Linked DNA regions of Homo sapiens: regions 2 and 3 are each linked to region 1. The links come from fine-mapping of genetic effects on gene expression. A gene starts in region 1. Each other region holds a variant in brackets. All regions are shown on one strand. Distances are from middle to middle. Region 1 holds the start of TIMM13 (translocase of inner mitochondrial membrane 13). Region 2 holds the start of LINC01775 (long intergenic non-protein coding RNA 1775). Region 3 overlaps TMPRSS9 (transmembrane serine protease 9).

Evidence for each region.
Region 2: its variant is fine-mapped to the expression of TIMM13 in whole blood (INTERVAL, PIP above 0.99).
Region 3: its variant is fine-mapped to the expression of TIMM13 in whole blood (INTERVAL, PIP 0.99).

Annotation. Positions count from the first base shown.
Region 1 is chr19:2,422,245-2,432,736 of GRCh38, forward strand. It overlaps TIMM13 (translocase of inner mitochondrial membrane 13), which reads right to left and starts at 5,342. Exons shown (of 3, transcript NM_012458.4): 1 at 5,170-5,342; 2 at 5,012-5,080; 3 at 3,381-4,802. The coding sequence starts at 5,289. The coding sequence ends at 4,704. It overlaps TMPRSS9 (transmembrane serine protease 9), which reads left to right. Exons shown (of 19, transcript NM_001395513.1): 15 at 1-3; 16 at 1,845-2,013; 17 at 2,758-3,023; 18 at 3,113-3,249; 19 at 3,683-4,017. The coding sequence ends at 3,844. It overlaps LMNB2 (lamin B2), which reads right to left. Exons shown (of 12, transcript NM_032737.4): 9 at 10,172-10,279; 10 at 9,539-9,658; 11 at 9,304-9,414; 12 at 5,922-8,708. The coding sequence ends at 8,667. RefSeq lists enhancers at 4,089-4,832, 4,833-5,578, 5,663-5,812 and a silencer at 5,023-5,112.
Region 2 is chr19:2,456,926-2,467,417 of GRCh38, forward strand. It overlaps LINC01775 (long intergenic non-protein coding RNA 1775), which reads right to left and starts at 5,260. Exons shown (of 2, transcript NR_134931.1): 1 at 5,056-5,260; 2 at 2,012-2,175. It overlaps LMNB2 (lamin B2), which reads right to left and starts at 34. Exons shown (of 12, transcript NM_032737.4): 1 at 1-34. The coding sequence starts at 8. RefSeq lists silencers at 1-132, 5,447-5,516. The variant C/G (reference allele first, on the strand shown) is at 4,882.
Region 3 is chr19:2,390,551-2,401,042 of GRCh38, forward strand. It overlaps TMPRSS9 (transmembrane serine protease 9), which reads left to right. Exons shown (of 19, transcript NM_001395513.1): 3 at 5,989-6,116; 4 at 8,245-8,312; 5 at 8,468-8,643. Among named protein-coding and RNA genes, the nearest start is that of TIMM13, 32 kb to the right of the region's middle. RefSeq lists an enhancer at 3,824-3,913. The variant G/A (reference allele first, on the strand shown) is at 4,305.

The sequences.
Region 1 (10,492 bases):
CAGGTACCGGGAGAGACGGAGGGATCCCTGGGAGTGGAGGGTCCCATGTTAATCAGCCTGGGCTGCCTAACAAGACATAACGTCGTCCACTTTGGGAGGCCGAGGCGGGCGGATCAAGAGGTCAGGAGATCGAGACCATCCTGGCGAACACGGTGAAACCTTGTCTCTACTAAAAAAATACAAAAAATTAGCCAGGCGTGGTGGTGGGCGCCTGTAGTCCCAACTACGCGGGAGGCTAAGGCAGGAGAATGGCATGAAGCCGGGAGGCGGAGCTTGCAGTGAGCTGCATGCCACTGCACTCCAGCCTGGCAACAAGCGAAACTCCGTCTCAAAAAAGAAAAAGACATAACGGCCTCTCTGGCTGGGCGCGGTGGCTCATGCCTGTAATCCCAGCACTTTGGGAGGCCAAGGCGGGTGGATCGCCAGAGGTCAGGAGTTCCAGACCAGCCTGGCCAACATGGTGAAACCCCATCTCTACAAAAAAATAAATAAAAAAAGCCAGGCATGGTGACAGGTGCCTGTAATCCCAGCTACTTGGGAGGCTGAGGCAGGAGAATCGCTTGAACCCAGGAGGTGGAGGTTGCAGTGAGCCGAGATCGTGCCATTGCACTCCAGCCTGGGCAACAGAGTGAGACTCCAGCTAGATAATAGTAATAAAAATAAAAAGCCAGGCGTGATGGTGCATGCCTGTGGTTCCAGCTACTGGGGAGGCTGAGACAGGAGAATCATTTGAGCTCAGGAAGCAGAGGCTGCAGTGAGCCGAGATCATGCCATTATACTCCAGCCTGGGTGACACAGCCTGTCTCTAAAAAAATTAAAAAAAAAAAAAAAAATGAAAGCAGGGACTTTGATGGTTCACAGCTGTGCCATGTCCTTGGGTGCGTGTTTCTTGCTAACTTGGCAGCTGCCCTCATGTAGGTCTGTCCCTGCAGCCTGGGGGCTCTCACTTTCTCAGTCTCAGCTGATTTTGACTTTTTCAATAGCTATGGCGTGGGATCTCTTTGGGCCCAAAAGAGGTGGAGAAGGCCCCCCTCAAAATACAGGCGGGTTCTGTGTGGAGGTAGCTGGTGTTCCCAAGGACAGCGGCTGCGGCTGCTGTCAGATTATCCAAGGCCACCTGGTCTTATGTCAGGGCCAGACGGTGCCAAGGCTGGTGGGGAACTGGCATTTCCCCTTACTGGCCTTGGTAGCTGCTGCGGGTTGGATGGCGGTTGGTGGGGGGTGGGGGGCGGGGGGGACCCAGGGAAGCCAGCTGGGTGGTGATAGAGGGCGGCGGGGGGGCTTGCCCCTGAGGAGGAAAACACGCCTCTGGAGACAGCAGGTGGGTATGGGACCCCCTCCATGGGTGGTAACAGGGTCCCTGAAACCCCCTGGAAACCACCCACGTGTTCTTTCCACAGCTGGGTTCTGAGGAAGGCCTTTGCGCTTGGCACCGTCTGGGGAGGGCTTGGAGGTGATCAGGGATCCAGGCAGAGGGCACCAAGGCAGGGCTGGGGCCTCTGGGGCGGGGCCCTGGTGTGTGCAAAGGCCTTGGGGTGGGAGGGAACTCCTGGAAGACGGAGATGTGGGAGGCTGCCATGAGAGGGGCCTCCGGCAGGGGAAACGTATGGTCCCAAAACTGAAGTCATAGGAAACAAATGCATTTCCAATGTTATTTGAGAAAAGCCCAAAGACCAAGCAGCAGGCCCAGTGTCCTTTCCTGCTGAGTTTTCCTGGGATAGGTCCCCCATCACAACCTACTCCCTGGGGCTCCCAGGGGGATTCGTGGAGAGGCGGCGCCCAGGGGGGCCTTCGTGGAGGAGGTGCCCTGGGTCCGCCTGCCCACGCGCCTGGCTCCCCCGCAGACTGTGGCCTGGCGCCGGCCGCGCTCACCAGGATTGTGGGCGGCAGCGCAGCGGGCCGTGGGGAGTGGCCGTGGCAGGTGAGCCTGTGGCTGCGGCGCCGGGAACACCGTTGCGGGGCCGTGCTGGTGGCAGAGAGGTGGCTGCTGTCGGCGGCGCACTGCTTCGACGTGTGAGTTCCAAACGCTCCAAATGCCCCTACATGTCTCTGTAGCTCACCCGGAACCGAACTGTTGCCCGAAAACGCACCCTGACCCCCTCCTTTGCCGGGAGTGCCCTCCCCAACCCCGGCTCCCACTGCCCCAGGCCACTCCTCCCACCCCCCATCTCCCCATCCTCGCTCCCTGCAGCCCTCCCCTGACCACCCACCCCCTAGCCTGACCACACGGGGCTGGGGCTGCGAAGGCCGAGTCCTACCCCGCGGTCCCCACCTAACCCGGAAGCTGCGGCCCCCCCCCTCCAGCTCCAGGCTAAGCCCACGGGAACATTGGGGTCACTTCTTTCCCCAGCCCTCGCCCCTGGGACTTGGCTCCAGCCCCCCAAAGCCCACCCAGTAGAAAGCTGCCCTCCCCAGGGCCCAAGCCCTGGCAGTCGAGGGGTCCGGTTTTCCAGAGGGGACACCCAGCTCTGGGCTCTGCAGGGCTGGAGGTCAGAAGGGGAGGGCAGGCGGGGGGCGGGACTCGCACGGCCACTAGACCCCTTTTCAGAGCGCTCATATTAGGTGGTGACGGCTGCAGTTCCCGGTGCCGCCTCGGTGCCTGATGGGGGAGACTGAGCCCATTCCCAGACCGACAGCCAGAGACCAAGAGGCCAATAACCCTGCCCAGGGTGCCAGCCGGCCGCTGGGGGACACCACAGGGGCGGGGGCCGGGGGCGTGGGGGCTCGGGCCGACGCCTGTCCTCGCGCGCCCCGCAGCTACGGGGACCCCAAGCAGTGGGCGGCCTTCCTAGGCACGCCGTTCCTGAGCGGCGCGGAGGGGCAGCTGGAGCGCGTGGCGCGCATCTACAAGCACCCGTTCTACAATCTCTACACGCTCGACTACGACGTGGCGCTGCTGGAGCTGGCGGGGCCGGTGCGTCGCAGCCGCCTGGTGCGTCCCATCTGCCTGCCCGAGCCCGCGCCGCGACCCCCGGACGGCACGCGCTGCGTCATCACCGGCTGGGGCTCGGTGCGCGAAGGAGGTAGGCGCGCCCGGGGCCGCGGTGGTGCGGGGCTCGGGGGGCGGCCGGACGCGGTCCCCACCCGCCCCGTCTCGCTCGCCCGCCCGCAGGCTCCATGGCGCGGCAGCTGCAGAAGGCGGCCGTGCGCCTCCTCAGCGAGCAGACCTGCCGCCGCTTCTACCCAGTGCAGATCAGCAGCCGCATGCTGTGTGCCGGCTTCCCGCAGGGTGGCGTGGACAGCTGCTCGGTGAGCCCCGCCCCGGCCCAGGGGACCAGGTCCCGCCCAGCCGCCGGGGAGGGCGGGTTCCCGCTGCCACGAAGCCCACCATCCGGGAGCCACCCTCCGGTGCAGGCTTCTCCAGCGGATCAAGCAGGGAGCCTTTTTGGCTCTGGAGGAATTTCCACTCCACAGCCGTTTATTGGGCAACCCACCGCATCCCATCCCCGGGCCTCGGCGGCAGAGCAGGCAGAGGCTGCAGTGGGAGGCACCGTTCCACTCCGGGACCACGTGGCGGGTGTCCATAAATGTCTGCCACCTTTGCATTGAGCCCATTTTCCAGATAGTGAAAATGCGGCTCCCAGGGGAAGTCACTAGGGTCACTCCTAGAGGGGCCAATGACCCAAGGGCTGCTGTAGGGGAGGTACCGGCCTCTGAACCCCCTTTCTTCTCTCCCCAACAGGGTGACGCTGGGGGACCCCTGGCCTGCAGGGAGCCCTCTGGACGGTGGGTGCTAACTGGGGTCACTAGCTGGGGCTATGGCTGTGGCCGGCCCCACTTCCCAGGTGTCTATACCCGGGTGGCAGCTGTGAGAGGCTGGATAGGACAGCACATCCAGGAGTGACCACCACGTGACTGCCCAGGCCGAGACTCTACGTGAAAGCAACAGGAGCAGCAGGCCACCCAACACCCCACCCCACCGTACCCTACCCAAGGACGGGTGTGGGGGGGCTGTGGGTCATGGGGATGCATTTTGGTACCACCCTTTGTTCCAATAAACACAGCCCCTCCACCCTAGCTCACTGGCTCAGCACCTCAGTGTCACAGCGAGGACCACCTGCCTGGTGCTCCACCAGGACCCGGGGTGGAACGAAGCAGGGTCAAAGCAAGCCCTGACAAGGGGAAGGCTGTCCCCCTTAGCCTTTGGGGCAGGGGTGGCAGCAGCAACACATTCCTCGTGACTCAGCAGCCCGGTGGCACTAAGGGGAAAGATGGACTTCTCCCAACCCAGGGGAGGCTGAGACCCTCCGAGCTGGGGTTCCAGGGACACGCGTCACCTCTTCCCAGAGACCCCTCAGGAGGGAAATAAAGAGGTTTCTCTCCGTCCTCCACCAATTTATTTGCCCATCCGCAGGAGGTGACAGCTCCTGTGGTGTCTGACCACCCCCAACTCCGAAGTCCAGACAAGCTGTCCGCCCAGAATATGAGGCTGACTTGGGCACACTAGGGGAATACCCCAAAGGCCTGAAGGAGGTGCCACTGGGCTGCCAGCACTTCAGGAAGGCACAGGGCCCCACACCCCCGAGATCCAAGCTGCACTGGCTGGCAGGGGGCAGGGCGGGGGGTGGCGAGGACACAGTCCCGTGTGTCCCAGCACCGGTGCCACCCTCCTAAGCCCCGGGCAGGCAGTACGTACATGCGGACCCCGCCTCTCAAAGCACGTTTATGGAAATGAACAGGGTGGGGTGGCCCGCGCTCGCCGGTCACATGTTGGCTCGTTCCCGCTGCAGCCGCGAGTTGTAGGCGCGAGACACGGTGTTCCAGGCGTCCATGTAGCGGTCCATGCACATGGCGATGCACTTCTGCGGGAGCGGAGGGGCGCACGGCTCAGCTCGGGACTTCGCGGCCCCGGGGACCGCCCTGACCCCGGCTCCAGGACGCCCGGGCTGCAGACTACGCACGTGCAGTGACCACTCCGTCGCACCTCCCCGTTAGTCTGCGCACGCGCAGACACCTCCCCCCTCGAATCTAGGCCCTCGCGACCCTTGCCCCGAACCTCCGCGGGTCTCACCTGCTCGGAGTTGTCCAGGGAGCCCCCAGGTTTCCCTATACACTTCCGGAAACACTTGTCCGTCATCCTCTGTGGAGACACGCGAGGCTTTAGCCGCGACGTCGGCCCCCAGGGGTGGCCCTGTCGCCCCCAGCGCCCGTCCCCGGCCAGCCCCGCACCTGCAGCAGCTCCTGCGCGTTGGCCACGGCGATCTGCACTTTCACCTGCTCCATTATGAGCCCTGGGTCCAGCTTCCCGCTGCCGGAGCCCCCGAAATCGGAGCCGAAGCCGCCCTCCATGGCTCCGCAAAGTCAACCGGACCGAGGCCGCGTGCGCCGACTCGTAACTAACTGCGCCGGAAGCGGGCCGCCCGGGGCACCACGGGAAACGGAGTCCGCGCGGACGGGGACGGAGGACTACAACTCCCACACGACCGCGCGCGCCCGGGCCATTCAAGGTCGCGCGGGGGGCCCTCCGCTCATGCGGAGGCCTGGACCTGCCGTTACCTACACGAGCTACCCGTGGTTGCGACTCCGCGGGAAGAGGGAGGCCCTGACTTGGCCGGGGAGTAGGGGGGCTACTACGTGCGGCCGAGGCCGATCACTTTGTACTCACGCTCTGCCTCCAGCTCGTCCCGAAGGGCCTGCCGCGCATGCGCACGAGGCACCCGGCGCGTCTATACAGCGTGTTGCCGCCGGGGCGGAGCCCGGTCGCATCACGTGACGAAGAGTCAGCTTGTGCAACAGCGTCGGAGGCTCACTAGAAAAAAAAGGGCAGGGTCCCATGCATCGCCTGGGTCCTGTTTACACTAGCTACACTAGCCAGTGACCTTTTTCCTTGGGGGTGGAGGGATCTTTCTTAGACATCCGCTTCATTAGGGCAGAGGCCCCGGCTCGAGCTTCCCCTCAGGAATAAACTCAGAGGCAGAACCTAAAATCAAAATGTTTATTGGAGTGTTGTACAAAAAAGTTTCCAGTCATAAAATGTATATTACAAATCATTGGAAAAAAAAAAGAACACATTAGGCATGCATCTTCTTAAAAACCGAATCTCTGAAATGAAAGTCCATGCCAGCCCCAGCTGCAGCCCAGCTCCGTTTTTGCAGGTTGTGCTGTGACGCTCGCTGGACGCAGGGCTTGGAAGAGGCTGCAGGCGGCGACGCCCCAGGACTGAGGAGTCCCTCAGATCTTTAACAAAGAACTGCCGCGTGCAGGCTTCAGACCAACCCCAGCCAAAGCCGCTGGCATGAGGACAGGTGCATGATCGGATTCTGGGTCAGCCCGCAGGCCTCCCGGCTCCTGGGCTCAGCGGGGCAGGCTTCAGCGTTAACCTGGCGCTGTGCACCCCAGAACCCGCGTTGGTCCAGCAGGCGTGGGCCTCCCCCCAGGGCTGGGTGGCGTCTGATGCTTCGCAGGGAGGGCGCTAGGCTTCGAGTCACACGGCACGGGCTTACACAGAGGGATGGTTTCGCATCGTTCTAAGCGGCACACAGCTAAGCGTATTTGGGGACAAATGCAAATTGTTTCCCAGGCCATAAATAACTTTTAAAAATTTGATTTTCTTAGTGTTTCCAAAGACTCAATTCTCAATGAACCTCCAATTACCCACAGGCTGCCCAGTCCACGCTTCTCCCCACCCCCTTCAGCTAAGGGCACCCGCAGTCCTAGGACCACCCCCAGCTCCACCCAAGGCAAATGTAGGGTGGGGGGTTCTGTGGGCCTGGGGCGTGCTGTTTTCAGGACAGGACTGGGCAGCGTCTGGACATGAGGACCTGCGGGTTTTGGGGGGGACTTTGTCCCTGAGCCCAGCCTGCAAGGCTGTCGGCAAATCACAGACCAACTCCAGGATACAGCTTTGCTCCTCCAGAGCCAAAATACATAGGATGTGGCTGAGACCACTGCAGACTCCCCATAGGACAAGATCACCAAGACCCACCCCCAGAACCCTCGCTAGCACGAAGCCCAGCCAGTCGGGTCCGGGTGATTCCTGCTATGAAGGTGGGAAAGAGGACACAGTCTGTCGCCAGCATTCCCACTTCCAGCGGCTGGCAGAGGGTATCCCCGGGGCAGGCAAAGCTCCCTACCAGCCGCCTGACTGGGAGCACAGCGGCGTAGCCTCCAGGAGGAAATGCTTTGGTAAGATGCGCCCCCCTCTATCTACATGGGACCGGGACTTCTGAGAGCAAGGACAGCGAGCAGGGGCTACGTGGAGCAGCGGGTGTTTCTGCTTTGTCGGCCGCTGGCTCCTTCCCGGCCTGGGGCTGGGGCCCCCCATTCCTTCCTGCCACAGGCAGGTCCCCAGGGAGGCGGGATGCAGTCACAGGGGAGCGGTGCCGCCCCCGCCCTGCAGTGAACGCCATGGCCCGGAGACGGCGCGTGCCCATGGCTCAGTTTTGGTGTCTTTAAGACTTGAGCTGCACTTTCTGAAGGAGGCTCTGCCGTCGGAGGGTGCCCCAGCCCCACGCCACCCCGGGGAGGAGGGTCAGCCTGTCCTCAAGGCCCTGGCGTGAGCTCCTGACCTGTGTACTGACCAATGTAAAAAAATAAATATCCATTAAAAAAATAACTTCTGTGTATCTATGAGGGAGGGTGTAAACGGTGAGCTATTGCCGAAGGGGGGTGCCAGGCATTGGGAAGCTGGACTGAGGGGCTTGGGTGCGTCGTGATAGGAGTCAGGTGGCCTTGGCCTGTCTGAGAAACATGGTTTCAGCGAGAAAATCACAGATAAAAGCACAGTATGGATAGACGCATGTGTATATATAGGCACAGGGCAGACGGAGCTGGAACACGGGAGGGGCTCCACAGCGCTCTCCTCCAGAGGGTCAACATGGTGGCGTTCCCTGCAGACAGCTGTTCTGAAACTCACAGCTTCTGCCTCCAAGGCAACCAGATGTGTCCCCTCCACATCTCCCCTCCCTGCTTATTGTTGTGACAGGTCTTACGACGGGACTGTCCTCATTCTTCCTTCCCCAGGTCTTCCCCTCCCCTGCCCTGTTGGCCTTGCACAGTCAGGAACTGAACTGCGGGAAAACTCCCCCAAATAAAGTCAACGGTCCGAGAAACCCGGCCGGTGCGCTGCCAGAACGGGAATCTGGAAGCCCAGGCAGCGGAGTGAAAACCCGCCCTGGGGGCCACGCCATCCCCATGCTGGCCCACACCCGCTGCGTGGCTGCCTGAGGAGTTCCCGCTGTCCGAAGCTGGGCAGCCAGAATGCAGGCTTGGCCCCGGGCCCCACCAGGTCGACGCCTGGATTCTGAATTTGGTTTTGTAGAAAGCCTTAAAAAAACCCACCACCACTGAATTCCTACGCAGTTTCCGCGCTCCGTCCGCAGCAGGGCCGTCTCCTGTCCCCTCGCTAGCCTCGCCGGCCCTCCTCCCTCCAAGCCCAAGCATCTTCTAAACCTCCGGGTCCTGGCCCTGGGCTTCCAATTTGACCAAATGGTGAGATGAGGAGTGGGGTGGGATTGAAAAGTCTCCGGGGCAGCGGCGAAGTGGCAGCGAAGTGAGGCTGGAGGAGACCCGCCAGGAGGGAGGGCTGGGGGAGACCCACCCACACGTTCTGGCAGTTCGCTTAGAAATTCTCTAGAAATGTATCAAGAACTAAAGAAAGCCAATGATATAAAAATAGTTTTCAGTGGCTCTGGGTAAAGAAAGGTGTGTGGATGAGGAGTGTGGGTTCACATCACGTAGCAGCCTCTTGAGGTGGTCCTCGGGTCCCCCTGCAGGAAGGAAGGAAGGAAGGTCGGCCATGATCAGGGCCAGCCTGGAGGCAGCCGGCAGGTAGATGGCTGCCCCCACCTCCCCACCAGGGAGGGGCTGAGCAACAACAGTGTCTATTTCTAGAGCCTTCCATTCCACTTCCATGTCCCCATGAGCCCGCCTGTGAGCTACACATTCTGTTCTGGGTTCCAAAACAGTCACAGGAACTTGCGACGCACGCGTTTAATGCAGCTGTGGTTTCTGCACTCATCTTCTCCCCAGAAGCCAGTATTGAAGGGACCTGTGTCTTCGACTGAGGAAGCCGGTTGACCAGAGAGCATTTGGGGAGCTGTTCAACACCCACCTCTCAGGGGACCCCCTGGCCAGCTACCCTGAGGTCTGTGATGTCGCAAATTCACACGATGGGCACGACCCAGGAGGCAAGAACAGGTCTCTGCCGTGCTGGTAACAGCCAAGGCTGGCTTCACCCTGAGCCACGGCAGCCAGATGGAGCTCCCGTCGGGGATGCGGCCAGCACGCATGTGTATGTGTGTGCACGAGCTCACTCTGCCCCAGAGGCTGCCCCCCAGCCGCAAGTGGGCACAGGGGTCCTACCTGTTGGTGGAAAAGATCCTCCTCGCCAAACTCGGCTTCCTCCTCCTCTTCCTCCCCATTCTCATTCTCACGCATCACCGAGGACTTCTTCACAGTCCTCATGGCCACTTCCTGTGCGGGACAGGACACGGCGGCATGTCCCGGGATCGGGCCCAGAGCTGCTGTGGCGGCCCCGAGGGTGCCCAGACCCTGCCCAGGACTCCAGCCGAGCACCCCCCAAGCCACACACACCCACCTCGCCATCCGCGTTAACCAGGACGGTGCGGAAGCTCTCGCCCGTGCCCCAGCTGCTCTGGCCCTTCCACACCAGCGTCGAGGGGGGGCTGTGGGCCACCCCCGCACCAGCTGCCCACACCTGAGGACCCAATAACAATGGCCCCATCAGGGTCACCTCTGGTTCCAGGGACGTGGGCCAGCCAGTGGCCCCTACCACAAAGCCCCCTTCAATGCCCTGGGCGTTCAGTCCTTCCAGCCCGACGCAGGCTTATCCAGGGTGATGGTCCCCAGGATACACAAGAAGAGACCAGGGTTCACAGAGGCCAAGGGCTCTTGGCAAGCAGGGGCTGAACTGGGATCTGACACCCACCAGGCTCCATGGCCCATGCGCCTGACTGTTAACACTTCACGGGGACGCCTGCCAGCCCCAGCAGCCTGGACTCAGACCCAGGGCACACCACTCAGGCTCCAGGGAGGCCCAGTGGGGTGACACCAGCACATGGAGGTTCTATGACTGCGGCAGCCGCTCTGAGACGGTGCCTGGTGCCACCATCATCCCCACCCACCCCCGCCAAGTCCTGTGCCTCCAGTCCCCTGACCCCACCTCACACCCCATCCGTGGCCACCCTCGCCCTCCTGCCCCACCACCTACCGTGACCATCTGGCCGGCGCGCAGGATGTACTTGGGCGTGAACTTGTAGGCGATCTCCTCCCCCTCCAAGACCTGCCTCTTGATTCTCCAGTTCCCCAGAGACTGATCCTGGAAGACACGGCACACACCTGACCCTCAGCCACCAGGACTGTGACACCGCCCCCATCGCCCTGGCTGGTGGCCCCATCACCCTGACCCTGGTCACCCCCACCAGCTAGGTCACCCCATTACCCCCATGCCCTGGTCATTCCAGTCACCTTGTCCCCTGCCTCGTCCTGACCGGCGGCCCTGTCACCCTGACCCTGGTCACCCCCATCAGCT
Region 2 (10,492 bases), 35 kb after region 1:
GGGCTCATTCAATCCGCGCCGCCGGCTGCAAGATGGCGCCGCGCCGCGCCGCGCCCGCCGCCCGCCGCGGCGGGGCAGCCTGGGACTGGTAGTCCGACCGCCGGGCGCGCGCGGGGCACGCCGGAAGTTGAAGTCTCCGTCCAGCTCTCGCTTCGCAGAGGCGCTGACTCCAGAGACAGACTTCCTGGCTGCAAACTCCCAGCTCCGCCACGAGGAAACAGCGTTGGGTTGCTTTCTAGTACCTGTTTCCCCACTTAGAGAACCTCAAAACGTGTTCAAAGAACCAGACACAAAAGGCCATATAGGGCCGGGCGTGGTGGCTCACGCCTGTAATCCCAGCACTTTGGGAGGCCAAGGCCGGTGGATCACTTGAGAAAAGAATTTCGAGATCAGCCTGGACCACATAGGGAGACCCCCCCACACCATCTCTACTACGGAGGCGCGCGCCGGTAATCCCAGCTACTTGGGAGGCTGAGGCAGGAGAATCTCTTGAACTTGGGACGTGGAGGTTGCAGTAAGCCAAGATCGCGGCACTGCACTCCAGCCTGGGCAACAATGAGAAACTTTGTCTCAAAAAAAAAAAAAAAAAAAAAAAAAAGCCATATAGTGTACAATGCCACTGATATAAAATGTCCAGAAGAGGCTGTCAAGGAGTATGAATTTCAACAAATTGAGTTTAATGATCTCATTGGCTCTTATTAGCAATTCATGAATTGGATAGCATTCAATCTATTAAATAGGCACTCCAATGAGCTGAGCAGAGAGGATGGGCATTCTGCATTACAGGCAGAAAAGGCTGAAGAAAGGAGAAATAAGAATTAAAATAAAAGCCAGGCCAGGTACAGTGGTTTGCTCACGCCTGTAATGCCAGCACTTTGGGAGGCGGAGGTGGGAGGATAGCCTGAGCCCAGGAGTTTGAGACTGGCCTGGGCAACATAGCAAGACCCCATTTCTAAAAATAAAAATAAAAAAATTAGCCAGGTGCAGTGGCTCACACCTGTATTCCCAGCACTTTAGGAGGCCAAGCCGGGCAGATCATGAGGTCAGGAGTTCGAGACCAGCCTGACCAATATGGTGAAATCCCGTCTCTACTAAAAATACAAAAATTAGCCAGGCATGGTGGCACATGCCTGTAGTCTCAGCTACTCGGGAAGCTGAGGCAGGAGAATTGCTTTAACCCGGGAGGCGGAGGTTGCAGGGAGCCAAGATTGAACCACTGCACTCCAGCCTAGGCAACAGAGTAAGACTCCACCTCAAAAAAAAAAAAAAAAAAAAATTAGCTGGGCGCCTATAGTCCTAGGTATTTGGGAGGCTAAGGTGGCAGGATTGTTTGAGCAAGAGAGGTCAAGGTTGCAGTGAGCCCTGATCACATCACTGCATTCCAGCCTGGGTGACAGAGTGAGAGTTTGTCTCAAAAAAAGTAAAAATAAAAATACGAAATAAAAACCAATTGGTTGTTTCAAAGTTACTTTTTTCATAGGGTCTGTTTTAACCCCCTCTATTTTGAGGGTACTTCCCTATCAGGTTAACCGGTCCCCTTTGGCTTGGTGGCTGTGAATGTTTTTTTTTGAAAACCTGCACCCTTTAAAGTTCAGTTTGAGGCCAGGTACGGGTGGCTCTCACCTGTAATCTCAGCACTTTGGGAGGCTGAGATGGGGAGATCGCTTAAGCCTAGGAGTTTGAGAACATCCTGGGCAACATAGTGAGACTCTGTCTCCAAAAAAAAAAATTTTTTTTTTTTGGAGACAGAGTCTTGCTCTTGTCACCCAGGCTGGAGTGCAATGGCATGATCTCGGCTCACTGCAACCTCCACCTCCTGGGTTCAAGCAATTCTCTGCCTCCCGAGTAGCTGGGATTACAGGCACCCGCCACCATGCCCAGCTAATGTTTGTATTTTTAGTAGAGACCTGGTTTCACCATCTTGGCCAGGCTGGTCCTGAACTCCTGACCTCGTGATCCACCCACCTCGACCTCCCAAAGTGCTGCAGTTACAGGCGTGAGCCACGGCACCCAGCCAAAAAAATTTTTAATAATTAGCCACATGTGCTGGCACACACCTGTAGTCCCAGCTCCTCGGGAGGCTGAGGCAGGAGAATGGCTTGCATCCAGGAGTTCAAGTCTGCAGTCAGCCATGATTGCGCCACTGCACTCCAGTGTGGGCAACGGAGCGAGACCCTATTTCAAAAAATAAAAAAAATAAAAGATCAGTTTGACTACGTGGTACCTGGCACTAGTGACTCCATTCCAATTTTATCTGGTCTGCTGGGGACTAGAGACCCCATTGTCTAAAACAATGGCCTGCCATACATTTTATTTAACAAGGCCAGGCGCGGTGGCTCATGCCTGTAATCTCAGCACTTTGGGAGGCCGAGGCGGGCAGACCACCTGAGGCCAGGAGTTCGAGACCAGCCTGGCCAAAATGGCAAAAACCTGTCTCTCCAAAAAGTACAAAAATTAGCCAGGCGTGGTGGTGTACGCCTGTAATCCCAGCTACTTGGGAGGCTGAGGCACGAGAATCGCTTGAACCCAGGAGGCAAAGGTTGCAGTGAGCTGAGATCACACCACTGCACTCCAGCCTGGGCGACAGAGCAAGACTCCGTCTCCAAAAAAAACCCCCCAAAATTGTAATTTAACAAGACAACCTATACAGCAGTGTTTCTCCAACTCTGCACTAGATATTTGGGGCCAGATCACTCTCTGTTGCAGGGGGTTGGAGTCAGGAGGTGCTGTCCATTACAGGGTATTGAGCAGCATCCTCGGTCTCCACCCACTCCATGCCACGAGCATCCCAGCCTCATACTTATTTTTTATTTTATTTTTATTTTTAGTTGAGGCGGGTCTCGCTCTGTGGCCCAGGCTGCAGTGCAGTGGCGTGATCTCGGCTCATTGCAACCTCCGCCTCCCGGGTTCCAGCGATTCTCCTGCCTCACTCTCCCGAGTAGCTGGGATTACAGGCACTTGCCACCATGCCCGGCTAAGTTTCTGTATTTTTAGTAGAGACAGGGTTTTGCCATGTTGGCCAGGCTGGTCTTGAACTCCTGACCTCAAATGATCTGCCCGCCTTGGCCTCCCACGTTGCTGGGATTACAGGCGTCAGCCACCGCGTCCGACCCCGGCCCCCTAGTTATGAAAACCAAGTATGTCTCCAGAGATTGCCACATGTCACCAGAGGGGCAAAATTGCCCCAATTGGAGAATAACTTCCTCCTGACCTAGAACTGGCCCGGTCTTCCTTCTGCCTGGGGAACTCCTCCTTTTTACACATCTCACCTTGGGGGTTTGGCTCAGCCTCTGCCAGAGACCCCAGTAAATCACACACTGAGAATCTAATGCCCTTTCCAGCCTACTGAGGACACCAGGGGAAAGAGCCCACCTGCCTCCAACAGCCAACATTCACTCGCTATTATTCCCCTCTTACCAGATAGACCCCCAGCCTTAGAACCCAGGCAGGAAGCCTGGCATGGTGGCTCACACCTGCAATCCCAGCCACTCTGGGAGGCTGAGACAAGAAAATGGCTTGAGCCCAGGAGTTTGAGACCAGCCTGGGCAACATAGCAAGACCCAACTCTACAATACTCTACAGTTTTTTTTTTTTTTTTTTTTTTGGAGACAGAGTCTTTCTGTCCCCCAGGCTGGAGTGCAGTGGCCCAATCTTGGCTCACTGCAACCTCCTCCTCCTGGGTTCAAGAGATTCTCCTGCCTCAGCCTCCTGAGTAGCTGGGATGACAGGCATGCGCCACCATGCCTGGCTAATTTTTGTATTTTTGTAGAGTTTCCTCATGTTGGCCAGGCTGGTCTTGAACTCTGGACCTCAAGTGATCTGCTCACCTCGGTTTCGCAAAGTGCTGGGATTACAGGTGTGAGCCACTGCACCCGGCCCCTACAAAAAAATTTTTTTAATTAGTTGGTCGTGGTGGCGTGCATCTGTATCCCCAGCTACTTGGGAGGCCGAGTCAAGGAGATGGCTTAAGCCCAGGAGGTGGAGGCTGCAGTGAGCTATGATTGCACCATTTCACTCCAGCCTGGATGACAGCGCAAGACTCTCTCTCTCTTTTTTTTTTTTTTTGGCAGGGGGGACAGGGTCTCACCCTGTCACCCAGATTGCAGTGCAGTGGCTTGATCTCGGCTTACTACAACCTCCACCTCCCAGGGTCAAGTGATTCTCCTGCCTCAGCCTCCCGAGTAGCTGGGATTACAGGCGTGCGCCACTACGGCCCAGCTAATTTTTGCTAGAGACGGGGTTTCACCATGTTGGCCAGGCTGGTCTTGAACTCCTGACCTCAAATGATCCGCCCACCTCGGCCCTGCAAAGTGCTGGGATTACAGGCGTGAGACACCGTGCCCAGCTGCAAGACTCTTTCTCAAAACAAACAACAAATAAACCAGCCAGGCAAGAGGGAGCTAAGCAGTGACTGCGTATTTAGAGGACTGATACTGTTTTCCTTCCTCATAAAGGGAGGAATATAAAATATAAAGACAGATGGTAAAGCACAATGGGAAATAAATAATACTACAGGAGGCGGGGCCAGAGGGGAGAAGGATGATTGAGGTTTGGGTGGGAAATGGGGTCACTTTTTTTTTTTTTTGAGACAGAGTCTTGCTCTGTAGCCCAGGCTGAAGTGCACGATCTCAGCTCTCTGCAACCTCCGCCTCCTGGGTTCTTGTGATTCTCCTGCCTGAGCCTCCTGAGTAGCTGGGACTACAGGCATGTGCCACAACGCCCGGCTAATTTTTGTGTTTTTAGTAGAGACGGGGTTTCACCATGTTGGACCAGGCTGGTCTCGAACTCCTGATCTCAGGTGATCTGCCAGCCTCGGCCTCCCAAAGTGCTGGGATTACTGGTATGAGCCACCACGCCCGGCCGGGTCACTTTTCCTATTCT[C/G]CACCCTCAGACTGATCTGAAACCGCCCCCCCGCTCCGCATCAACTTCTCACTGACCACCGGCCTTGGCCACTGGCTGACCAGATCCCCCAACTAGCCCCTTACTGGAGGCCCTGCGGGGTCCCGCCCCCAACCCCATCGCGCTGCCCCTCTGGGCACTTCCATCCCCACATACCCCCATACCCAGCCTTTGCCCGTGCTGTTCCATCCGCCAGGAGCGCCGTTTCCTGCCTGACTGCGCGGCCCTGGGCCTCAGTCTTGCGCTCTGCAAACCGGGGTCTCGAATCTACCCCAGCCCTCCTGTCTCGGCGCTGGGGAGGGGCTTCGGGTGCCCAGAGCCATCCCCGCGGGACCCCCAGGGACTGGACTCCAAGTCCCAGAAAGCCCCGCGCTTCCCGTGGGTGGGGCCCGGGGCTTTCCCCCTCCCAGCGCGCAGTTTGGGAGGCGCTGGGCAATTTTCAAATTTTGGCGCCGAACGGGAGGGGCGGTGACAGCTGAGACCGTGGTCCCCCCGGGGGCACCCACGCCCAGGCTGCTGCTGGCAGCTGCGCCCAGAGCCCGAGGTCTGGGGCATCCCGCAAAGCTGCCCCGTCCATTCCGAGGGGCCTCCCAAGGCACCACACGCGCCAGGGGGCTCCGGGCCCATTTCCATTATGGAAAACTGAGGCACAGGAAGGTTAGGGACCGGTCGGGGAATCCGCACCAGGGGCGTAGCGGAGGCGGGATTCGAACGCGGGACCCTCTTTCCCCCGGGAGCTAGAAATTAGTGACCAATTGGCTGGGCGCGGTGGCTCACGCCTGTAATCCCAACTTTGGGAGTCCGAGGCGGGCGGATCACCTGAGGTCAGGAGTGCGAGACCAGAATGACCACCATGGCGAAACCCCGTCTCCACTTAAAAAAAAAAAAAAAAAAATTAGCCGGGCGTGGTGGCAGGCGCCTGTGACCCCAGCTACTCGGAAGGCTGAGGCAGGAGAATCGCTTGAACCCAGGAGGCGGAGGTTGCAGTGAGCCAAGATCGCGCCATTGCACTCCAGCCCGGGCTACAAAAGCGAACCTTCGTCTGAAAAAAAAAAAAAGAAAAGAAAAGAAAAGAAAGTTAGTGACCAACTGCTGTCTGCTTTTGGGGAGAGGGTACGGGGCCGCGGGAGAGAAATCCCGGACCCTGGGACTATGCAGCCCGTGAGGGCCCCAGTCCCGACCCGTCCATTCCACTGACCTCCACCCGGCACCGCCACTCCCACCCGGGGAGTGGATTTTGGCGCCAGATTTTAAAAATCTCAGCCTAACGGCTGTGGCTGGCTCCCAGCCCGGAATGCGAGCCTGGAGCCCGGATTCCGGAACCTGGATCTGGAGGAGCCCGGATTCCAGAGCCTGGTTCTGAGGGAGCTCGGATTCCGGAGCCTGGATCTCGGGGAGCCCGGATTCCGGAACCTGGATCTGAGGGAGCTCGGATTCCGGAGCCTGGATCTCCAGGAGCCCGGATTCCGGAACCTGGATCTCAGGGAGCCCGGATTCGGAGCTTGGGTCTGAGGGAGCTCGGATTCTGAAGCCTGGATCTCGGGGAGCCTGAATTCTGGAGCCTGGATTCTGGGCTGTGGGTCTTGGGAAGCCGAATTCTGGAACATAGATTCCAGAACTTGAAGGCCAAACCTGGTATCTAAGATCAGAATTCAGGACCCTGGAGTTGGAACCTTGTGACCCCAACAGAAATCCGGGAGGCAAGCAGAGCTCTGGGGCCGTGGCTGGCAGCTGCCTGTTAAATGAGTGAATGGAACAGTGAAATCAACACATATTTGCGTGGCTTCTACTTTGTGGCAGGCACTGGGGGGACAGAGGGGAAGCGAGTACACATTATAAATAAGTGAATTAGGTAGGGCGCAGTGGTTCACACCTGCTATCCCAGCATTTAGAGAGGCCGAGGCAGAAGGATTGCTTGAGGCCAGGAGTTCGAGACCAGCCTGGACAACATAGTGAAAGCCCATCTCTACAAAATATACAAAAATTAGCTAGGCGTGGTGACTCATGCCTGCAGTCCCAGCTACTTGGGAGGCTCAGGTGGGAGGATCACTTGAGCCCAGAAGGTAGAGGCTGCAGTGAGCAGAGATTGAGTCACTGCCCTCCAGCCTGGGTGACAAGAGTAAGACCCTGTCTCAAAAATAAATAAATAGGGCTGGGCTTGGTGGCTCACACCTGTAATCCCAACACTTTGGGAGGCCGAGGCGGGCAGATCACCTGAAGCCAAGAGTTTGAGACCAGCCCAGCCAACACAGTGAAACCCTATCTCTATTAAAAATACAAAAATTAGCCGGGCATGAGGGAGCACGCTTGTAATTTCAGCTACTTAGGAGGCTGAGGCACGAGAATTGCTTGAACTCGGGAGGCGGAGGTTGCAGTGAGCCGAGATTATGCCACTGCACTCCAGCCTGGGTGATGGAGTGAGACTCTGTCTCAAAAATAAATAAATAAATAAATAAATAAGTGAATTGTATGGCATGCTAGAGGATGGTGAGCATGAGGAAGAAAGAAAGTGGGGTAAATGCTGGGGCATGTGTGGAGTAGGGGTAGAGGTGGGCCTCTTAGAAAAGGGCAAGACAGGGTCTCGCTATGTTGCCCAGGCTGGTCTCAAACTCCTTGGCTCAAGTCATCTGCCTGCCTTGGCCTCCCAGAGTGCTGGAATTACCGGCATGAGCCACCGTGCCCAGCTTATATTCACTTTTCTTATCTCACAGTTTCTGTGGGTCAGGAATCCAGATGTGGCTTAACTTTGGCATCCTCTGTCTCAGGGCTCTGAAAGGTGGCAACCAAGGTGTCTCTGGGGCAGAGTCCACTTCTAGACTCACTCACACGTGGTCAGAAGGATTCTGTTCCTTGCAGACTGTTAGACCAAGAGCCTCAAATCCTGGCCCACTGCTGTCCAGGGCCTGCCTCCGTTCATCAGGAGGAGCTGGGGGTGAATTAGTCAGGGTTCTCCAGAGAAACAGAACCAGCAGGAGGGGAGAGAGAATAAGAGATTTTTTTTTTTTTTTTGAGACAGAGTTTTGCTCTTGTTGCCCAGGCTGGAGTGCAATGATGCAATCTCGGCTCACCACAATCTCTGCTTCCCGGGTTCAAGCGATTCTCCTGCCTCAGCCTCCCCAGTAGCTGGGATTACAGGCATGCGCCACCACACCTGGCTAATTTTGTATTTCTAGTAGAGATGGGGTTTCTCCATGTTGATTAGGCTGGTCTTGAACTTCCGACTTCAGGTGATCCGCCTGCCTTGGCCTCCCAAAGTGCTGGGATTACAGGCGTGAGCCACCACACTCGGCCAAGAGATTTATTATAAGGTATTGATGCACGGGGGCTGACAAGTCACAACATCTGAAGTCTGCAAGCTGGAGACCCAAGAGAGCCGATGTTCCTTTTTATTTTTATTTTTTTTGAGATGGAGCTTCGCTCTGTTGCCCCAGCTGGAGAGCAGTGGCATGATCTCGGCTCACTGCAACCTCTGCCTCCTGGGCTCAAATGATCCTCCCCCCTTAGCCTCCCGAGTAGCTGGGATTACAGGCATGCGCCATCACGCCCGGCTAATTTTTGTATTTTTAGTAGAGACAGGGTTTCACCATGTTGGAAAGGCTGGTCTCAAACTCCTGACCTCAAGTCTCCTGCCTCCCAAAATGCTGGGATTACAGGCGTGAGCCACCATGCCCGGCTGAGAGCTGATCTTTCTGTTTGAGTCTGAAGACAGGAAAAAGCTGATGTTCCAGTCTGAAGGCCTTCAGGTGGGAGGAATTCTCTGCTCCCCAGGGGAGTGGCAGCCTCTGTATTCCATCCGGGCCTTCAGTGAATTCCGCAAGGCCCACCCGTGCTAGGGAGGGTAGTGGGTTTGAGTGACTCAGTGAGTCTACTGATGCAAAGGGTCAAAGGCTCATCTCATCTAATAACCCCCTCACCGGCATGCACAGAGTAATGTTTGACCAAATATGCAGGCACCCACAGCCCAGCCATGATGGCATATAAAATTAACCACCGGGCGGGGCGCGGTGGCTCACGCCTGTAATCCCAGCACTTTGGGAGGCTGAGGCTGGTGGATCACTTGAGGTCAGGAGTTCAAGACCAGCCTGGCCAACATGGCAAAACCCCGTCTCTACTAAAAAATACATAAATTAGCCAGGCGTGGTGGTAGGTGCCTGTAGTCCCAGCTACTGGGGAGGTTGAGGCATAAGAATCACTTGAACCCATGAGGTGGAGGTTGCAGTGAGCCAAGATTGCACCACTGCACTCCATCCCGGGTGACAGACTGAGACTGAGATTCTGTCACCAAAAAAAAAAAAAAAAAAAAAAAAATTAAGCATCATACAGCCGGGTGCAGTAGCTGCTCATCCTGTGATCCCAGCCCTTTGGGAGGCCAAGGAGGAAGGATCGCTTGAGGCCAGGAGTTCAAGACCAGCCTGGGTAACAGAGCAGGGCCCCATATCTACAAAAAATAAAATTAGCTGAAAGCGCCTTTGCAAAAGTTCTATCAGTGAGAAAAAAAAATTTTTTTTTTTTGAGACGGAGTCTCGCTCTGTCGCCCAGGCTGGAGTGCAGTGGCACAATCTCGGCTCACTGCAACCTCCGCCTCCCGGGTTCAAGCGATTCTGCTGCCTCAGCCTCCCAAATAGCTGGGACTACAGGCACGCGCCACCATGCCCAGCTAAGTTTTGTATTTTTAGTAGAGATGGGGTTTCACCATGTTGGCCAGGATGGTCTCGATCTCATGACCTCGTGATCCGCCCGCCTTGGCCTCCCAAAGTGCTGGAATTACAGGCGTGAGCCACCACGTCCAGCCGAGAAAATTATAACAGTAGGCTAAACTAACTAACCCCCATCTTGCCTTAATTATTCCTGGGCTATTGGGCCCAGCTAACTTGGGAAGACATTTAGGCTACAGTTTAAGTGATAGTAGACCTTGCACAAAACCCAACAGCTTTTGTCAAGCTAACCTGAGGCCTTCAGGTTGAGGGAGGAGGGGAGCCTGACATCTGTTAAGGTGCAAACGTTATTCTGGAGGTTATAAGATATGCAGCTTCCAGGCCAGGTGCGGCGGCTCACGCCTGTAATCCCAGCACTTTGGGAGGCCAAGGCGGGTGGATCACTTGAGGCCAGGAGTTCAAGACCAGCCTGGCCAACATGGTGCAACCCCATCTGTACTAAAAATACAAAAATTAACCAGGCTTGGTAGCCCATGCCTGTAGTCCCAAATACTTGGGAGGCTGAGGCAGGAGAATCGCTTGAACCTGGGAGGCAGAGGTTGCAGTGAGCCGAGATCTCACCACTGCACTCCAGCCTGGGCGACAAAGCGAAACTCAGCATGCAAAAAAACAAAAAAAAAACAAAAAAAAAACAAAAAAAAAGAGATGTGGTTCCCCCAATTACTCCTGCAAATAACACCATTATTGTAGTTTGGCCTTTTGAGATGTCTTTCCACGTGTTTTGCATGTCTGACACCCGTGGCTCCACCTGGACTGACAACCCTGCTCCTGAGGTTCCACACAGAAGCGATCTGGCCGGCAGGAGGACCCCTGCAACCTGCTGTGAGTCCATCTCTGCCCCCAACCAACCAGCAGCAAGCACCTGTTTACCTGGCCCA
Region 3 (10,492 bases), 32 kb before region 1:
ATTTTTATAAAACCGAGCAACTGGGTTGGGCGTGGTGGCTCCCGCCTGTAATCCCAGCACTTTGGGAGGCTGAGGCGGGAGGACCATCGGAGCCCAGGAGTTTGAGAACAGCCTAGGCAACATGATAAAGCCCTGCCTCTACAGAAAATACAAAAAATTACCCAGGCGTGGTGGCACCTGCAGTCCCAGCTACTCAGGAGGCTGAGGCAGGAGAATCGCTTGAACCTGGGAGGCAGAGGTTGCAGTGAGCTGAGATCGCACCACTGCACTCCAGCCTGGGTGACAGAGTGAGACTCTATCTCAAAAAATAAAAACATAATAATAAATTTAAAATAAGGCCGGGTGCAGTGGCTCATACCTGTAATCTCAACTTTTTGGGAGGCTGAAGTGAGCAGATCATGAGGTCAGGAGTTCGAGACCACCCTGACCAACATGGTGAAACCCCATCTCTACTAAAAATACAAGAAAGAAAGAAAGAAAGAAAGGGAGGGAGGGAGGGAGGGAGGCAGGCAGGCAGGTAGGCAGGAAGGAAGGAAGATAGCTGAGCATGGTGGTGCACGCCTGTTATCCCAGCTACTTGGGAGGCTGAGGCAGGAGAATTGCTTGAGCCCAGGAGGAGGCAGAGATTGCAGTGAGCCGAGATCATGCCCTTGCAGTCCAGCCTGGGCAACAGAGCAATTCCATCTCAAAAAAAAAAAAAAAAAAAAAAGTTAATTTTAACATTTAAATGATGATAATAAACAGCAATTTGGGGAGAAATGCTCTCGTGTGGCAAAATAGTAAGTTCGCGATCCTATGAGAATCCTCCTAGGTTTTTTTTTTTCTTTTTTCTTTTTTTTAAAAAATATTTGTGGAACTTCTGGAAACTCCCAGAGCCAGACATGTTTGACTGAGGCCCTCTAGTGGCTGTAGGTACCAAGTACAATACAATTTGGGTTCCTCGTGTGAGTGTATTTGTGTGTTCATGAGTGTGTGCATGGTGCACACGTGTTCATTTGCATGCGTTTGTGCATGCATGTGTGTGTCTGCGTGTGTATCTATGTGTGCATGCGTGTGTGTGTGTGTGTGTCCATCACCTAGTGAGAGGCAGGGGCGGGGCAGAGTTTCTCATCTGCATTGTAACAAATACATTTTGGGAAAAACAGATAAATATAATTCCCATCAGGACCCCCCTGAAAGGAAAGGAAGTCTTTTTTTTTTTTTTTGAGATGGAGTCTCACTCTGTCTCCCAGGCGCGACAGAGTGCAGTGGCACAATCTCAGCTCATCACAACCTCCACCACCCAGGTTCAAGCGATTCTCCTGCCTCAGCCTCCTGGGTAGCTGAGATTACAGGTGTGTGCCACTACGCCGAGCTAATTTTTGTATTTTTAGTAGAGATAGGGTTTTGCCATATTGGCCAGGATGGTCTCAAACTGCTGACCTCAAGTGATCCACCTGCCTTGGCCTCCGAAAGTGCTGGGATTACAGACATGAGCCACCACGCCCCATCAGGAAGTCTTTCAAGAAGCACTTAAGGCCAAGTGTGGTGGCTCCTGCCTGTAATCCCAGCACTCTGGGAGGCTGAGGCAGGAGGATTGCTTGAGCTCAGGAGTTCGAGACCAACCTAGGCAACATAGCAAGACCCCATCTCTACAAAAAATTAAATAATGAAGACAAGAAACATTTAAAATTAAAATTTTATAATGTTTTCAGTGAAAATGAGTGGTTGTGCGTGCCAGTAGTCCCTGCTACTCGGGAGACTGAGGTGGGAGGATTGCTTGAGCCCAGGAGTTGGAGCCTGCAGTGAGCTATGATCACACCACTGCACTCCAGCTTGGGAGACAGAGTGACACCCTGATAAAAAATAAAAAAGAAAAAGAAAAAAGGACATGATGCCAGGCGTAGTGGCTCACGCCAGTAATCCCAGCTCTCTGGGACGCTGAAACGGGAGGATTGCTTGAGCCCAGGAGTTCCAGTTCAGCCTGGTAACATGGTGAAACCCTGTCTCTACAAAAAATGCAGAAAATTAGCCAGGGCCGGGCGAAGCCAGCTGGGCTCCTGAGTCGAGTGGGGACTTGAAGAATTGTTATGTCTAGCTGGAGGATTGTATATGCACCAGTGAACACTCTGTGTCTAGCTAATCTGGTGGGGACTTGGATAACTTTTATGTCTAACTAGAGGATTGTAAATGCACCAATAAGCACTCTGTGTCTAGCTCAAGGTTTATAAACACACCAATCAGTGCTCTGTGTCTAGCTAATCTAGTGGGGACTTGGAGAAATTTTAAGTCTAGCTAAAGGTTTGTAAATGCACCAATGAGCACCCTGTGTCTAGCTCAAGGTTTGCAAATGCACCAATCGCACCAATCAGTGTTCTGTGTCTAGCTAATCTAGTGGGGACTTGGAGAACTTTTGTGTCTAGCTAAAGATTTGTAAATGCACCAATCAGCACCCTGCGTCTAGCTCAGGGATTGTAAACACACCAATCAGCACCCTGTCAAAACGGACCAGTCAGCTCTCTGTAAAATGGACCAATCAGCGCTCTGTAAAATGGGCCAATCAGGAGGATGTGGGTGGGGCCAGATAAGGGAATAAAAGCGGACTGCTGGAGCCAGCAGCGGCAACCGGCTTGGGGACCTTTTCACAGTGTAGAGGATTTGTTTTTTAATTCTCTGCGAGAAATCTTGCTGCTGCTCACTCGTTGGGTGTGAGATGCTTTTATGAGCTGTAACACTCACTGTGAAGGTCTGCAGTTTCACTCCTGAGGCCAGCAAAACCACAAACCCACCAGGAGGAATGAACAACTCCAGACACGCTGCCTTAAGAGCTGCAACACTCCCTGGGAAGGTCTACAGCGTCACTCCTGAAGCAAGCAAGACCACGAACCCACCAGAAGGAAGAAATTCCGAACACATCCGAACATCAGCAAGAACAAACTCCGGACACACCATCTTTAAGAAATGTAACACTCAGCGTGAGGATCCGCAGCTTCATTCTTGAAGTCAGTGAGACCAAGAACCCACGAATTTCGGACACAGTAACATGGGGAAACCCTGTCTCTACAAAAGAATGCAAACAATTAGCCAGGGCCAGGCATAGTAGCTCACCCCGGTAATCCCAGCACTTTGGGAGGCTGAGGCAGGTAGATCATGAGGTCAGGAGTTTGAGACCAGCCTGGCCAACATGGGTGAAACCCTGTCTTTACTAAAATACAAAAATTAGCTGGGCAGACTGGTACGCGCCTGTAATCCCAGCTACTCAGGAGGCTGAGGTTGGAGAATTGCTTGAACCCGGGAAGTGGAGGTTGCAGTGAGCCGAGATCATGCCACTGCACTCCAACCTGGGCAACAAAGGGAGACCATGTCTCCAAAAAAAAAAAAAAAAAAAAAAAGCTGGGCGCGGTGGCTCCCACCTGTAATCCCAGCACTCTGGGAGGCCGGGTTGGGCGGATCATGAGGTCAGGAGATTGAAACCATCCTGGCCAACATGATGAAACCCCGTCTCTACTAAAATACAAAAAACATTAGTTGGTCATGGTGGCATGTGCCTGTAGTCCTAGCTACTCGGGAAGCTAAGGCAAGGGAATCGCTTGGACCCAGGAGGCAGAGGTTGCACTGAGCCAAGATCGTGCCACTGCATCCCAGCCTGGCAACAGAGTGTGAGACTGTGTCAAGAAAAGAGAAGGAAAGAGAAAGCTAGCCAGCCAGGCGTGATAGTGGGCGCCTGTGGTCTCTGTGGTCTAGCTACTTGGGAGGCTAAGGCAGGAGGATCACCTGAGCCCATGAGGTCGAGGCTGCAGTGAGCAGTGATTGTGCCACTGCACTGAAGCCCGAACAATAGAGACCTTGTCTCAAAAAAATAAAACATTTAAAAAAATAAAAATGAGAATTCAGCCCTTCGCAAACAGCTCACCATTTTAGTTGGAGATGAGAGGCTGAGTGGAGAGCGGGAGGCGTTCTGAACTATTTCTGCAACTTCCTGAATCTGCAGTTGTTTAGAGTAGAAACAGAGTGAGGTTGGGACACAGAGGCGGGGCAATTCAGTCCGCCCACCAGGGTGCTCGTGTTTCTTTAGTTTCTTGAACGAGAAAACATACCGTTTTTAGAATTGGTTCAGAATATTCTATCTACTGAATATATGGCTACGTAAATACCCATCTAGCATATCTATCCATTTAGGATAAACGGAATTGGGACCCAGCTTTCACGGTTTACGCGGTTGCTATTTGCATGGTTTAAATGTTGTAATTACGGCCATTTTTTTTGCGCTGGTGTGCACTTCTGGTAGTTTTAACGTATTTTTGACCAAAACTCGTGCTCTCATG[G/A]TTTCTGTGGTTGCTCTCGTAGTTTTTATTTAGATTTTTTTCTGCTGCTGCTTGCATCAGCATAGGAATTTTTTATGACTATTATTTTTGCTGTACTTTGTACTTTGGACACAACACAGCCAACAGCTAAAAACCAGTGCTTTCTGCCTGGCGTGGTGGCTCACGCCTGTCATCCCGGCACTTTGGCAGGCTGAGGCGGGCAGATCACCTGAGGTCAGGAGTTCCCGACCAGCCTGGCCAATGTGGCGAAACCCCATCTCTGCTAAAAATACAAAAATTAACGCTGGGTGCAGTGGCTCACGCCTGTAATCTCAGCACTTCGGGAGGCCAAGGCGGGTGGATCACCTGAGGTCAGGAGTTCCAGAGCAGCCTGGCCAACATGGTGAAATCCAGTCTGTACTAAAAATACAAAAAAACTAGCCAGGTGTGGTGGTCCACGCCTGTAATCCCAGCTACTCAGCAGGTTGAGGCAGGAGGCTGAGGCAGGAGGATCGCTTGAACCCGGGAGATGGAGGTTGCAGCGAGCTGAGAAAACACCACTGCACTCCAGCCTGGGTGACAGAGTGAGACCCTATCTCAAAACAAACAAGGCCGGGCGCGGTGGCTCATGCCTGTTAATCCCAGTGCTTTGGGAAGCCAAGGCTGGCGGATCATCTGAGGTCGGGAGTTTGAGACCAGCCTGGCCAACATGGAGAAACCCCATCTGTACTAGCTGGGTATGGTGGTGCATGCCTGTAATCTCAGCTACTCCGGAGGCTGAGGCGGCAGGAGAATTGCTTGAACCCGGGAGGCGGAGGTTACAGTGAGGCGAGATCATGCCATTGCACTCCAGTGTGGGCAACAAGAGCAAAACTCTGTCTCAAAACAAACAGGCCGGGTGTGGTGGCTCACGCCTGTAATCTGAGCACTTTGGGAGGCCGAGGAGGGCGGATCACGAGGTCAGGAGATAGAGACCATCCTGGCTAACACAGTGAAATCCCGTCTCTACTAAAAATACAAAAAAATTAGCCACGCGTGGTCGTGGGTGCCTGTAGTCCCAGCTACTCGGGAGGCTGAGGCAGGAGAATGGCATGAACCCGGGAGGCGCAGCTTGCAGTGAGCCGAGATTGCGCCACCGCACTCCAGCCTGGGCGACAGAGCGAGACTCTGTCTCAAACAAACAAACACAAACCAACCAGTGGTTTTTGAAGATGACCTCATGGGACTGTGGCCGGAGAGTCCTGATGGCCTCTGGCTGTGCTCATGCCCCTGCCATAGGAGGCGGGGACTGTCATTTCACCGTCTCCTGATGCCATTCCAGAGGTTACGCCCTGAAGTCAGCTCAGATCCTGGGCCAGGCACTGCATGGGAGACAGGCATGAGCAGGACCTCTTTCTGCCTTCGAGGAAAACACGGGGGCATCTGGGGCTCACTTGGCACTCATCCACCTTGTGCTGTACCTGGGGACCTCCGGGTGGGTGGCTGTCATAGAATTCGGCTCCAAACCAGGATGCTTTTGGGAATTGAGGGAGAGCCCTGTGAGTAGCTATTCAGGGCTATCACGGGGGCGTCGACCACCCCACTGCGTGTCAGGAGTGACCACCAGGGTGTGTGAGTGCAAACAGGGCGGGGCCTGGGTGGCAGCTCAGCGGAGCCCTGAGCCCCCAAAGGTGGGCTCTCTCACGGGCCCTGGTCTCGTCCCCAGCCTTCCTCTCTACACAGGGCTTCCACGTGGACCACACGGCCGAGCTGCGGGGAATCCGGTGGACCAGCAGTTTGCGGCGGGAGACCTCGGACTATCACCGCACGCTGACGCCCACCCTGGAGGCACTGGTGAGGGTGGTCTGTGTTTGGGGGCCAGGGAGGAAGAGCGGGTGGCCGGGGGCTTTGACCTGGAGGTGCTTTCCGTGTGGGAGGGAGGCAGGCCACAGGCAACGAAGCTGAGGTGGAGGCTGTGAGACCGGGAGGCCAGGCCAGGGGGCGGGCAGGACGAGGCCAGGTGGCCAAGGCAGATACCTGCAAGGCAGAGCTGTATCCACTGAGGACACACTCACATGGGACTTTAGGCCACATTTAGAGGTTTTTTTTTTTTTCTTTTTTTTCTTGAGACGGAGTCTCACTCTGTCACCCAGGCTGGGGTGCAGTGGAATGATCTCGGCTCACTGCAAGCTCCGCTGCTCAGGTTCAAGCGATTCTCCTGCCTCAGCCTCCCGAGTAGCTGGGATTACAGGTGCACGCCACCACGTCCAGCTGATTTTTGTATTTTTAGTAGAGACGGGGTTTCACCATGTAGGACAGGATGGTCTTGAACTCCTGACCTCAAATGATCTTCCCTCCACGGCCTCCCAAAGTGCTGGGATTACAGGCGTGAGTCACCGTACCCAACCTGCCACATTTAGAGTTTTACATTTTATTCTAAAGGGGAATCAGAGCCCTCATGCACAGCTGGGGGAAGGTATTTTATTTTATTTTTTTGAGACGGAGTCTTGCTCTGTTGTCCAGGCTGGAGTGCAGTGGCAGGATCATGGCTCACTGCAACCTCTGCCTCCCGGGTTCAAGCGATTCTCCTGTCTCAGCCTCCTGAGTAGCCAGGGTTACAGGCACCCACCACCTAGGATGAACAGGGAAACACAGCGTGGCTATGCACACACTGGAATATGACTCAGCCAGGAAAAGGGGCCAGGCTTGGACACAGGACACAGCGAATTATATTTTAATGAAAAAATAATGTTTTCCATTTTATTCGAAGAGAAACAGACGTGTGACCACATCAGCAATCACGTATTAAAAACAGCACTCCAGGCGGGCACGGTGGGTGGCTCACATCTGTAATCCCAGCACTTTGGGAGGCCGAGGAGAGTGGATACCTGAGGTCAGGAGTTTTGAGACCAGCCTGAGCAACATGACAAAATCCCACCATTAGTAAAAACACAAAAATTAGCGGGGCGTGGTGGTGTGTGCCTGTAGTCTCAGCTACTCGGGAGGCTGAGGTGGGAGGATTGCCTGAGCCCAGGAGGCAGAAGTTGCAGTGAGCCAAGATCGTGCCATTGCACTCCAGCCTGGGTGACCGAGTGAGACTCCATCTTAAAAAACAATTTTTAAAAATAGGCTGGGCGTGGTGGCTCACGCCTGTGACGCCTCCTGGGCTCAAGCAATCCTCCCACCTCAGCCTCCCGAGTAGCTGGGAGTGCAGGCACACACCACCATGCCCAGCTAATTTGGGAGGCTGAGGTGGGCGGATCACGAGGTCAGGAGTTCAAGACCAGCCTGGCCAACATAGTGAAACCCTGTCCCTACTAAAAAATACAAAAAATTAGCCACGCATGGTGGTGTGTGCCTGTAATCCCAGCTACTTGGGAGGCTGAGGCAGGAGAATTGCTTGAACCTGAGAGACGGAAGTTGCAATGAGCCGAGATCGTGCCACTGCACTCCACCCCAGGCGACAGAGCAAGACTCTGTCTCAAAATAATAATAATAATAAAAAATTTAAAAATAAAACATAAGTCTGGGCGTGGTGGCTCACAACTGTAATCCTAGCACTGTGGAAAACCAAGGCAGGTGGATCACAAGGTCAGGAGTTCGAGACCAGCCTGGCCAACATAGTGAAACCCCATTTCTACTAAAAATACAAAAAATTAGTTGGGCATGGTGGCGGGCACCTGTAATCCCAGCTTCTTGGGAGGCTGAGGCAGCAGAATCGCTTGAACCTGGGAGGCGGAGGTTGCAGTGAGTGGAGAATGCACTACTGCACTCCAGCCTGGGTGACAGAGCAAGACTCTGTCTCACAATACATACATACATACATACGTACATATAGATAAAAATTTAAAATAATAAAAGGAAATGCTTTCCCATGGAACCAACCCCTTCTCCAGCTCCCTCCAACACCTGACAGGCCTCTGCAGTGCCAGGGTGCCCATGCTGTGGGTCTCAACATTTGATATTCTTGTTTCTATTGCAGTTTGTAAGTAGTTTTCAGAAGACAGAGTTAGAGGCAAGCTGCGTGGGTTGCTCGGTACTGAATTATAGGTGAGTTGGAGCTTCCATTGGGTGAAGGAAACTTGGTGGACATCTGGGAGTTTCTGGAGGAGTCCAGAAAAGTTTGGAAGATTCTAGAAGATTCCAGAAGATTCCAGCAGGGCGGAGCCCCTCCCTCTCCAAGGGCCTCTCCTCCATACCTGTAGGGATGGGAACTCCAGTGTCCTCGTACATTTCCAGCTGCACTTTCTGCTGCGACCCCTCCAGACGCTGAGCCTGGGCCTGGAGGAGGAGCTATTGCAGCGAGGGATCCGGGCAAGGCTGCGGGAGCACGGCATCTCCCTGGCTGCCTATGGCACAATTGTGTCGGCTGAGCTCACAGGTGAGTGGGCAGCCGAGACCGAAACCCCATCACGAGGAGGCTGGAGTGGGGCAGGAGCTGCAAGATACATTTTGATAACCACCCCTTCCCATAAAAAGAAAACAAACTGGCCGGGTGTGGTGGCTCATGCCTGCAACCCCAGCATTTTGGGAGGCCGAGGCGGGTGGATCACCTGAGGTCAGGAGTTTGAGACCAGCCTGGCCAACACCCCATCTGTACTAAAAATACAAAAATCAGTTGGGCGTGGTGGTGTGCACCTGTAATCCTACCTACACAGGAGGCTGAGGCAGGAGAACTGCTTCAACCTGGGAGGCGGAGGTTGCAGTGAGCCGAGATCGTGCCATTGCACTCCAGCCTGGGCAAAAAGAGTGAAACTTCGTTTCAAAAACAAACAAACAAACAAATGTAAAAACTGACATTGCCTTTGCCTTAATGGTGTGGATAAGGGGTCAGCCATCTTGTTCTGTAAAGAGCCAGAGTGTTGTGTTGTGTTGTGTTGTCTTGTCTTGTCTTCTCTTTTCTTTTCCATTTTTTTTATTTTTGAGACAGGATCTCACTCTGTTGCCCAGTCTGGAGTGCAATAATGAAGTCTTGGCTCACTGCAGCTTCTGCCTCCCAGGTTCAAGCAATTTTCCTGCCTCAGTAGCTCCCGACTCACTCCCGAGTAGCTGGGATTACAGGCACGCACCACCACGCCTGGCTAATTTTTGTATTTTTAGTGAGATGGGGTTTCACCATGTGTACTGGGCTGGTCTTGGACTCCTGACCTCAGGTGATCCTCCTGCCTTGGCCTCCCAAAGTGCTGGGATTATAGGTGTGAGCCACGTGCCCAGTTAATATTTTCATCTTTGTGGTCCGTTGGGTTTCTGTGACAAGCACTCAGCTCTGTTATTTGTAGCACAAAAGTAGCCACAGACAATACATAAATGAATAGGTGTGGCTGTTTACCAATAAAACTTATTAAAAATAACAAGCAGTGGGCTGGATTTGGCCTATGGCCGTAGTTGGCCAACCCCCTACTGTAGAATCAAGGATAAATGCTACACTCTAATAAAATTGTATGGAAGGCCGGGTGTGGTGGCTTATGCCTGTAATTCCAGCAATTTGGGAGGCCAAGGTGGGCTGATCACTTCAGATCAGGAGTTCGAGACCAGCCTGGCCAACATGGCGAAACCCCGTCTCTACTAAAAATACAAAAATGAGCTGGGTGTGGTGGCACGTGCCTGTAATCCCAGCTGCTCAGGAGGCTGAGGCAGGAGAATTGCTGGAACCCAGGAGGCGGAGGTTGCAGTGAGCCAAGGTTGCACTACTGCACTCCAGCCTGGGTGACAGAGTGAGACTCCATCTCAAAAAAAAATTAATAAAAATAAAAAATAAAATTATACAGTGCATGATTTTGTATGCACCTGGTTTTAAAAAATAAAAAACAAAATTGTACGGTGCAGCAGGTCATGATTGGAGAGTCAGATGCAAGTTCAGACCATTGTTAAAGATTTGTTGCCAGGTGTGGTGGCTCATGCCTGTAATCCCAGCACTTTGGGAGGCCGAGGTGGGTGGATCACCTGAGGTCAGGAGTTTGAGACCAGCCGGGCCAACACGGTGAAACCCCATCTCTACTAAAAATAAAAAAATTAGCCGGGCATGGTGGCGGGCGCCTATAATCCCAGCTACTTGGGAGGCTGAGGCAGGAGAATTGCTTAAACCTGGTGGAGGTGGAGGTTGCAGTGAGCCAAGATAGCACCACTGCACTGTAGCCTGGGTAACAGAGTGAGACTCTGTCTTAAAAAAAAAAAAAAAATGGCCGGGCGCGGTGGCTTACGCCTGTAATCCCAGCACTTTAGGAGGCCGA